Regions from separate parts of the Homo sapiens genome. Here region 1 is linked to region 2. Evidence: fine-mapped expression QTL. A gene starts in region 2. The other region holds a variant in brackets. All regions are shown on one strand. Distances are from middle to middle.

The links. PIP is the estimated chance that this variant, and not a neighbour inherited with it, causes the effect. A credible set is the group of variants that fine-mapping cannot tell apart.
Region 1: its variant is the best candidate, but not a certain one, in a credible set for the expression of SLC51B in hypothalamus (GTEx, PIP 0.70).

What each region holds. Positions count from the first base shown.
Region 1 is chr15:65,071,775-65,077,121 of GRCh38, reverse strand. It overlaps KBTBD13 (kelch repeat and BTB domain containing 13), which reads right to left and starts at 376. Exons shown (of 1, transcript NM_001101362.3): 1 at 1-376. The coding sequence starts at 306. It also overlaps a transcript of RASL12 not described here. RefSeq lists an enhancer at 4,966-5,347. The variant T/C (reference allele first, on the strand shown) is at 1,884.
Region 2 is chr15:65,042,504-65,047,804 of GRCh38, reverse strand. SLC51B (SLC51 subunit beta) reads right to left here and starts at 2,418. Exons shown (of 4, transcript NM_178859.4): 1 at 2,223-2,418. It also overlaps a transcript of RASL12 not described here.

The DNA.
Region 1 (5,347 bases), 29 kb before region 2:
CGTGAGGTTGTGCTCCAGAAAGCGAGCCAGCGCCGGCGCCTGGAGGAAGGCGGCGCACTCCACGGCCTGCAGCAGCTCGTCCTCCGCCGCCAGCGCCGGCCGGTCGCCGCGCAGCACCTGCAGCGTGGCGCGGAAACCTCCCGCGCTCAGAACGCCCAGGCGCACCTCTGCTGCGCGGGTCTCCCGCATGCCGGAGCGGAAGAGGCCTCGGAAGAAGCCACAGTGCTCCACCAGCAGGGCGCGGTCGGCTTGGAAGAGCTGGCCGCCCACCCACACCTGCACCAGGGTCTGTGGACCCCGTGCCATGGCGAGCTGGCCGGGCGGAGGCTGCCGCTGGGGCCTTGGGTTAGCCAGCCACCAACTCTGGGGCTCCCCTGGAGCAAAAAACTTCCCTGGGGGCTATAAATATCTCTCCCTGGCTAAAGATAGTATGGCTCATGTGATGTGGTGGCCCGCAGGCTGTATGGCTGCAGGCCCGGAGGGCATCTGGAGACCTGTGTGATCACTCATATCCTTAGAAGAAATGGTAATAATGGGTCCAGAATTGGTGGGTTCTTGGTCTGACTTCAAGAATGAAGCCGCGGACCCTCGAGGTGAGTGTTACAGCTCTTAAGGTAGCGTGTCTGGAGTCTGTCCTTTCTGATGTTCAGATGTGTTTGGAGTTTCTTCCTTCTGGTGGGTTCATGGTCTCGCTGGCTCAGGAGTGAAGCTGCAGACCTTCGCTGTGAGTGTTACAGCTCTTAAGGCAGCGTGTCTGGAGTTGTTCGTTCCTCCCAGTGGGCTTGTGGTCTCGCTGGCCTCAGGAGTGAAGCTGCAGACTTTCACGGTGAGTGTTACAGCTCATAAAAGCAGTGTGGACCCAAAAGAGTGAGCAGCAGCAAGATTTATTGCAAAGAGGAAAAGAATAAAGCGTCCACAGTGTGGAAGGGGATATGAGCGGGTTGCCACTGCTGGCTCGGGTAGCCTGCGTTTATTCTCTTATCTGGCCCCACTCACATCCTGCTGATTGGTAGAGCCAAGTGGCCTGTTTTGACAGGGCGCTGATTGGTGGGTTTACAATCCCTGAGCTAGATACAAAAGTTCTCCACGTCCCCATCAGATTAGTTAGATACAGAGTTTCCACATACAGGTTCTCCAAGGCCCCACCAGAGCAGCTAGATACAGAGTGTCGACTGGTGCACTCACAAACCTTGAACTAAACTCAGGGTGCTGATTGGTGTGTTTACAAACCTTGAGCTAGATACAGAGTGCCGATTGGTGTATTTACAATCCCTGAGCTAGACATAAAGGTTTTCCAAGGCCCCACCAGAGCAGCTAGATACAGAGTGTTGATTGGTGCACTCACAAACCCTGAGCTAGACACAGGGTGCTGATTGGTGTGTTTACAAACCTTGAGCTAGATACAGAGTGCCAATTGGTGTATTTACAATCCCTGAGCTAGACATAAAGGTTCTCCAGGGCCCCACCAGAGCAGCTAGATACAGAGTGTCAATTGGTGCACTCACAAACCCTGAGCTAGACACAGGGTGCTGATTAGTGTGTTTACAAACCTTGAGCTAGATACAGAGTGCCGATTGGTGTATTCACAATCCCTGAGCTAGACATAAAGACTCTCCACGTCCCCACCAGACTCAGGAGCCCAGCTGGCTTCACCTAGTGGATCCTGCACCAGGGCTGCAGGTGGAGTTGCCTGCCAGTCCTGCACCATGCGCTCGCATTCCTCAGCCCTTGGGTGGTTGATGGGACTGGGCACCGTGGAGCAGGGGGTAGTGCTCGTCGGGGAGGCTCGGGCCGCACAGGAGCCCATGGAGTGGATGGGAGGCTCAGGCATGGCGGGCTGCAGGTCCTGAGCCCTGCCCTGCGGGAAGGCAGCTAAGGCCCGG[T/C]GAGAAATCAAGCACAGCGCCGGTGGGCTGGCATTGCTGGGGGACCCAGTACACCCTCCGCAGCCACTGGCCCGGGTGCAAAGTCCCTCATTGCCCGGGGCCAGCAGGGCTGGCTGACTGCTCCGAGTGCGGGGCCCGCCAAGCCCACGCCCACCTGGAACTCCAGCTGGCCCGCAAGCGCCACACGCAGCCCCGGTTCCCGCTCGCGCCTCTCCCTCCACACCTCCCTGCAAGCTGAGGGAGTGGGCTCCAGCCTTGGCCAGCCCAGAAAGGGGCTCCCACAGTGCAGTGGTGGGCTGAAGGGCTCCACAAGTGCCGCCAAAGTGGGAGCCCAGGCAGAGGAGGTGCCGAGAGCAAGCGAGGGCTCTGAGGACTGCCAGCATGCTGTCACCTCTCAATAATAGTGACCATATACCGTGCACCTGCAGCGTGCGGGCGCACTGAGGGCTGCTAGGGAGATACCCATTTCACCTGCATCTTTCCAGCTGTGTGCCCTCGTGCGAATGTCCTAACCGTTCCTCATGTTCCAAATGGGACCAGTAGGCCAGGAACGGTGGCTCATTCCTGTAATCCCAGCTCTTTTGGGGGCCGAGAATGGTTGATCACCTGAGGTCAGGAGTTTGAGACCAGCCTGGCCGACATGGGGAAACCCCGTCTCTATTAAAAATACAAAAAAATTAGCCGGGCGTGGTGGCACGTGCCTGTAATACCAGCTACTTTATGAGGCTGAGGCACGAGAACAGCTTGAACTCGGGAGGCTGAAGTTGCAGTGAGCCGAGCTCGTGCCATTGCACTCCAGCCTAGGCAACAGAGTGAGGATCTGTCTCAAAAAAAAAAAATTAATTAAAAAATAAAATGGGGCCAATAATAACACCTATTTCACAGTCATGGGACAGTATCCGAAATATCCCGGTTGAGGCTGAAAGACTTTAGGTAACTTGTCCAGGGTCATTCAGCTAGGAAGAAGCTGGGGCAGAATGAATACCCACCTCACCCCTTCAGCTCAGAGGAGTGGGACAGGCAGGTTGGAGAACAAGGCAGAAATGGAGCAAGTACATTGGGCCAGGCTGGGGTACAGGACCAGGGTTTTAATTTGGCTTGGGCTTCTGACTCTGACTCTGAGCCAGTCCAATCTCTTTTTGAGTCTCAATTTTCTTCCTGAAAAATGGGAAAGGTAGCAACCCTGCTTTGCAGATGAGCATCCCATAAAGCCCCTGACTTGGGATGGGGATGGGAATTCCACACTTGCTGCGAGGCTCCAGATCCTGGGAAAAGGAATTGGGGCTGCCTAGGGGATCATATGCTTGTGGATGGGAAGAAGGGCTTCCTGAAATAATAATAGCTAACACTTTAATTGCATTATGTGTCAGGCACTGTTGTAAGCACTTTATACTAAGTCCTTACAACAATCCCAGGAGTAGATACTATTATTTCTCCCCCCATGGATATTATCCATTTATTGCTTATAGCAACACTATGAATTAGAAATTATTAATGGCCTTATTTCATATATGAAGAGACTGAAGCACCAAGAGGTTTAGTCACATAGCCAGAGAGTGGCAGACCTAGGCCTGGAATGCAGCCAGCCTGATTCTAAAGCAGGGGTCCCCAACCCTGGGGCCATGGACCTTAGGAACCAGGCCGCGCAGCCAGAGGTGAGCAGTGAGCAAGCAAAGCTTCATCTATATTTACAGCCGCTCCCCATCCTCATTACTGCCTGAGTGCTGCCTTCTGTCAGATCAGTGGCAGCAGCATTTGATTCTCATTGGAGGGCGAACCCTATTGTGAACTGCATGTGGGAGGTATCTAGGTTGCCTGCTCCTTATGACAATCTAATGCCTGATGATCTGTCACTGTCTCCCATCACCTCCAGATGGGACTGTTTAGTTGCAGGAGAACAAGCTCAGGACACCCATGGATTCTACATTATGGCAAGTTGTGTAAGTATTTCATTATATGTTATAATAATAATAGAAATAAAATGCACAATAAATGTAATACGCTTGAATAATTCCGAAACCATCTCCCCTCCGCTGTCTGTGGAAAAACTGTCTTTTACAAAACCAATCCCTGGTGCCAAAAAGGTTGGGGACTGCTAGAGGGCATGCCCATACCACTGTGTTTTTTGTTGTCGGTTTTTGTTTGTTTGTTTGGTTCGTTGGTTTGGGGTTTTTTTGTTTGTTTGTTTCTTTTTTTGAGACGGAGTCTCACTCTGTCACCCAGAGTGACAGAGTAACCCACACCTGGTTAATTTTTGTATTTTCAGTAGAGACGGGGTTTCACCTTGTTGGCCAGGCTGGTCTTGAACTCTTGACCTCAAGTGATCCTCTCACCTCGGCCTCCCAAAGTGCTGGGCCATACCACTGTGCTCCGATGCCTCTCTGTGCTACAAATGCTGGGCAGTCACCTTGTGTCAGGAGGGCATAGCTGAAAGGCACCTCAGGCTCATATGGTTCAATCCTCTCACAGTGGAGGGAAGTGCTCAGGGTCTTGTAGCTTGAAGCAGACAGCCTCAGGCCTCCTGCTGCCCACTCCATGGCACTTTTCCCACTACACAGAACTTTTCTAGGTGACCAGCTAAAACTATGGGTCCAAAAGTGGAGCTTGGGATGGAATGGAGCTTAATAATTATCTCCTCTTGCCACCTATTCTAAGGTGAGGAAACTGAGGCCCAGACGTGTAAAATGGTATCTGCCATTCAGATGTTTAGCTCCCCATCCTTACCTGCAGGCCTTCTTAGGGAGAATGAGTGGCTCACAATGACCAAGTAGAAGGTGGGAAGAGGCAGGGGAACTTCTCTCCCCCTTAGGATACATATGCATAGATCCTCACGTATGAATCTGCAGAGCCAACACAAATGTGCCTCCCCTGCTAGGGAACTCCCATCCAGTTCACTCCATCAAAGCAGTGATGGGATGTGGGGACCACTTGTGTGAGCCTGGGAAGCCAGAGGCCTGGAGGAGGCAGCCAGAAATATCTCTGACTCTGCCCCAGGGACCAGACAGGAAGAGGAGGAGGAGATGGGGGGATGGGTGGGCAGAAGTCCCCATGAATACTATCCCAGGCCCTCTGCCAGTTTCTTTCTTTCCCCAAGGCCAGATATTGGCTGAATGGTCTGGGATGTCCAGGCAGCAGGCATGACAGTCCCAATCTTGGGGACCAGTGGGCTCTCAGTGCTGGGTCTTGACTGTGTCCTTGCTGGTGGCCTTAGTGGTAGGGAAAGAGTGTCTGACTATTCCCATTTCACAGACGAGGAAACAAAGGCTTAGAAATGATTTGGGCTTTTCCTTGGTTATGAATGGGGATGTGAGGCTCAATCGAACCCTGCCCACTGACCCTAGCTGCCACTCCTCACCTGCACTAGCCTTGTCTCAGGGCAGGGAAACAGTTGCCTTCTGCTGGGGGCAGGGCTGGAGAAGGGCTGACTCCCAGGGGGCCAGGGCTGCTGCATAGTCCCGGGACTA
Region 2 (5,301 bases):
CTATCTATCATCTATCGATCTATCTGTCTATCTATCTATCTGCCTACCTACCCATCTAAAATCATGGAAAGACAAAGTTACAAGAATGGCCAACAGATGTGATCTTGTGTTCTAGCTCCAACTGACTGTCCAGAGCACTGTCCAAGAAGGATTGTGACATTCCATCCAGTCTCAGATGTAAGAGTGCCTGGATTGATTAGTAACATCAGCCACAGGCCCCTGTGCCATATGCAAACCCCTGAACTCACAAAGAAAAGTATTGAAGTTGAGAAACCAAACACAGTCTTCTTCTAGGGTGTGGGATGAGATTTAGACACATGGGATATTCATGTTGACCACTCCTGTATTGTGTGGTTTCTTATGCGTATACACTGCTTTCATGAGAACAATACATGTAATTCCATTTTTAATGTGTGTATATATTTCTATGTATATTTTGTCTATTTGTATGTATGTTTTTTTTTTTTTGAGATGGAGTTTTGTTTTTGCTGCCCAGGCTGGAGTGCAATGGTGTGATCTCGGCTCACTGCAACCACCGCCTCCCAGGTTCAAGAAATTCTCTTGCCTCAGCCTCCTGAGTAGCTGGGACTACAGGCATGTGCCACCACACCTGGCTAATTTTTGTATTTTTAGTAGAGATGGGATTTCACCATGTTTGCCAGGTTGGTGATCCGCCTACCTCAGCCTCCCAAAGTGCTGGGATTACAGGTGTGAGCCACTGCACCCAGCCTTTGTATGCATTTTTAAATGTAGGTATTATTGTACTTATACCTTTTGAGACAACAATTCCAATTTTTGATATTTAATTAATGGAACTAATCAGATCAGTGTACAAAGACGCAGGTAAGCTATTGTCCACAGTGGAGTGGTGTTTTTTTGTTTTTTGTTTTTTGAGACAGAGTCTGGCTCTGTCACCCAGGCTGGAGTGCAATGGCACCATCTTGGCTCACTGCAACCTCCATCTCCCGGGCACAGGCGATCCTCTCACCTCAGCCTCCTGAGCAGCTGGTACAACAGGCATGTGCCACCACGCCCGGCTAATTTTTGTATTTTTTGTAGCGATGGGGTTTCATCATCTTGCCCAGGCCAGCCTTGAACTTCTGAGTTCAAGCGACCTGCCCACCTTGTCCTCCCAAAATGCTGGGATTACAGGCATGAGCCACCGCGCCTGGCCAAAATATGTTTAAAATATGTTTAATATTGTTACAGTAAACACATACCAACCAACAAAAAACCAAAATGACAAATTGGATACAAATCCAGAACCGAGAGTCAGCCCTCCTCAGCTATGTTAGATGCCACAGAAACAAGCGACATATTTCTTTCTTTTTTTTGAGACAGAGTTTCACTCTTTTTGCCCAGGCTGGAGTGCAATGGCATGATCTCAGCTCACTGCAACCTCCACCTCCCAGGTTCAAGTGATTCTCCTGCCTCAGCCTCCCAAGTAGCTGTGATTATAGGCATCCACCACCATGCCCAGCTAATTTTGTATTTATTTATTTAGAGACAGAGTTTCACTCTTGTTGCCCAGGCTGGAGTGTAGTGGCACCATCTCAGCTCACTGCAACCTCCGCCTCCCGAGTTCAAGTGATCCTCCTGCCTCAGCTTCCTGAGTAGCTGGGATTATAGGTGCCCGCCACCACATCCAGCTAATTTTTGTATTATTAGTAGAGACAGCATTTCACCACATTGGCCAGGCTGGTCTCGGAACTCCTGACCTGAGGTGATCCATCTGCCTCGGCCTCCCAAAGTGCTGGGATTACAGGCATGAGCCACCGCACCCGGCCAATTTTGTATTTTTAGTAGAGATGGGGTTTCACCACGTTAGCCGGGGTGGTCTCGAACTCCTGACCTCAGGTGATCGGCCTGCCTCGGCCTCCAAAAGTGCTGGAATTACAGGCGTGAGCCACTGCGCCCGGCCAAAGACATATTTCTATCAAAGCACGTATCCAGTTTGCTTCTAAAGTGAGCATCATATTGTCATTTGCATGATTAAATTAAACTTTATGCCTTATTTGCATTTTGTTAGTTTTGCCTTTAATGTTCTTTTCTTGTTCCAGGATCCCATTTAGGATGTCATACTGCATTTAGTTGTCTTGTCTCCTTAAGCCCCTCTGGGAGATCTCTGCATTTTAAACAGGGCTTAACCATCGTGCCATTGGACTGTGACTTCTGCCAAAGACCTGGGCCACCCATCCCCAAGGCAAGATGAGGACACTCACCCCGGATCCTGAGTTCCTGACGACTGCCTTGATCTGCTGTTGGGAGCAGCACCGATTTCTGTATCTTCCTTTTCCTCCTCTTTATGGGAGAACAGGATAGTCTTTGCACTTGAGCTCTCCCAGGCAGTAACAGCTGTCACTTAGGGGACAGTGCCTGGAGAGCCTGCGGCAGCTGGACCCATCTGGTAGCTCTGGCCTTAGCACACGCCCAGGCCTGGAGCCTTCTGTATCACTCCAGGGTGACTGACCTCTTGAATGAGTGCACTCAGAGTGCAAACAGGCTCCACCTGACTTTCACAATCCGAAAGCACCAGTAGCCCAGTGCTTTCATTGTTATGTGTTGGCCTCAAGTAAAGAGAAAACATCCGGATCCTCTGGACAGGCAGGAGAATGGACTGCAGAGGACCTGCGGTCTGTGGGTTCCATCACTGCAGGGGGATATGTAGTGTGCCCACTCCAGGTCTCTATTGCCCAATATCATCAATATTTAACCACGGAGCAGGGAGCCAGGCTGGCCTTTTACAGCCTGTGCTTTCTCATAGTGAAGGTCATGGCATGATGTGAATTCCTCACAAGGAGCTGTAAAATATGACCTTTGGAGGTGGGGGTTGGGAAAGGCTGTGTGAGCACCAGTGACCCAGAGAGTAGGAAGCAGGCCAAGGCAAGTAACTTGATGGGGAAGCAGGAATGAGGTGCTCCTCCCACCTGACCAGCACCATTCAACTCTGATAGTCTATGGACTTTTCCACCAACTGGCTCCGTGCATCTTAGGCAATCATTGTTGGTTTAGCAAGGAGTGGGCTTATGTGAAATAAGCCCACTCCTTTTTTTTTTTTTTTTTTTTTTTTGAGATGGAGTCTCGCTGTGTCACCCAGGCTGGAGAGCAGTGGCACAATCTTGGCTCACTGCAACCTCCACCTCCCCGGTTCAAGCAATTCTCCTGCCTCAGCCTCCTGAGTAGCTGGGACTACAAGTATGTGCCATCATGCCCGGCTAATTTTTTCTATTTTTAGTAGAGATGGTGTTTCACCGTGTTAGCCAGGATAGTCTTGATCTCCTGACCTCGTGATCTGCCCACCTCAGACTCCCAAAGTGCTGGGATTACAGGCATGAGCCACCACGCCCAGCCGCCCACTCTTATTTCTTACTTCACAAATGAAACAGAGGCTGAGTGAGGTCACATGTCAAGCCCAAACTCCTCTATGAGTTAAACATTAGTCAACAGTGTGTACTGTGTGTGCATGGGGCAGAGGAAAGAAGACCCAACAGGGAATCTAGGGGCTGCCTGGAACTCCAGCTCCTCCTCATTTTGTAATGCATTCATTTATTCATTGAATAAATGTTACTTGAGCATCTACTGTGTAGATACATGGTAAATAAGACAGGTGAGGGCCCTGCTCCATTGGAGCTCAAACTCCAGGGGAGATAGCCAACAAAAAAGTAAGCAAAAGCATAATTAAAAGATAATTATAGCAGTGATCATTTCTGTGAATATCTTAAACAACATAATAAGATAGAAAGGGATGAGGTGGGGGAGACATGATTACTATATTACTACACTAAAAACTGAATGATGAGGGGTTAACCATGCAAAGACCTGAAAAAGCAGGTACAAAGGCCAGGCGTGGTGGCTCATGCCTGTAATCCCAGCACTTTGGGAGGCCAAGGCAGGTGTATCACCTGAGGTCAGGAGTTCGAGACCAGCCTGACCAACAAGGTGAAACTCCGTCTCTACTAAAAATAAAAAAATTAGCCAGGTGTGGTGGCAGGCGCCTGTAGTCCCAGCTACTCAGGAGGCTGAGACAGGAGAACTGCTTGAACCCGGGAGGCGGAGGTTGCAGTGAGCTGAGATCGCACCACTGCACTCCAGCCTGGGCAACAGAGCAAGACTTCATCTCAGAAAAAAAAAGAAAAGAAAAGAAAGCAAGCAGGTACAAAGACACTGAAGAAATAATGAGCTTAATGTGTCTGGAACAAAAAGGTGGCCAATATAGCTGAATCATAGTGATGAGGGGGAAGTGGCATGGAATAAAGTCAGAGGACAGACAGGAGTATCCACTCCTCATGGTGGGCCTTGTAAAACAGGGTAAGGAGTTTGTATTTTACCCTAAAAGTGATGAGAAGCCACTGGAGGGTTTAGGCAGGAAAGTGACATAATCTAATTGACATTTGTCTAAGATCACTTGGCCTGCTGGGTGGAAAATGGATTGTAGGAGAGCAAGAGAGGAACAGGGAGACCATTGGGAGGCTGTTATATTCATCCAGGCAAAACATATTAGTAGTTTGGACCAGGCTGGTGGCAGTGGAGATGATGAGAAGTGGTCAGATTCAGGGTGCATTTTGGAGAGAAAGGTAGTTGATAGATTTCAAGAGAGAAGCTCAACACTAACTCTCTTAAACACAAAAGGAATTTATTGGCTCATAAACTAGGAAGGGCAGGGTGGAGCTGACCTGAGGCATACGGGAACCAGGGATTTGACGACCCGTAGTGCTTTGTTTCTGTGGCTCTTTCCCTGCTTTTCTCTGGGTGCCAGGCTCATTACCCCAGGCTGGCCACCTCCGGGAAGCTTGACCAGATGATAGGAAACCCAGGCTCATGCTCTCATAGCTGCAGAGGAAGTAGCTACTTTTCTTAGCTCTTGTTTAAAAATTCTTGGAAAGGACTCTAATTGTCCAGCCTGAGTCATGTACCTATGTCTTGGATCAATTGTTATGGCTAGGGAGGGGGGTACCACTGATAGCCAACTCAGAGCTCATCATGCCTGTTGGGTAGCCAGGAGAGACAGGCTGTGAGCTGGACAGCCCATGCCATGTGGGTGCCTGAAGGAACCATTTGACCTCAATCCCCCTTGTCTGCCTCTGAGGAGTGTTGTGGTGCTCTAATGGGATGGTGTCCCCTTAACAAGGAGCCTGCACAATCCCAGGTTTTCCACTCTTCTGCTTCTGTGTCTTTTCTCTCCCTCCTCTTACCCTAGCTCTTTCTACTACGGCCTATCCAATAACTTGTTCCATGGTTGCCATGTGCCAGGCATTATGCCAGTGATAAACAGTCGAAAGGATTGTCCCTGCCCTCATGGAG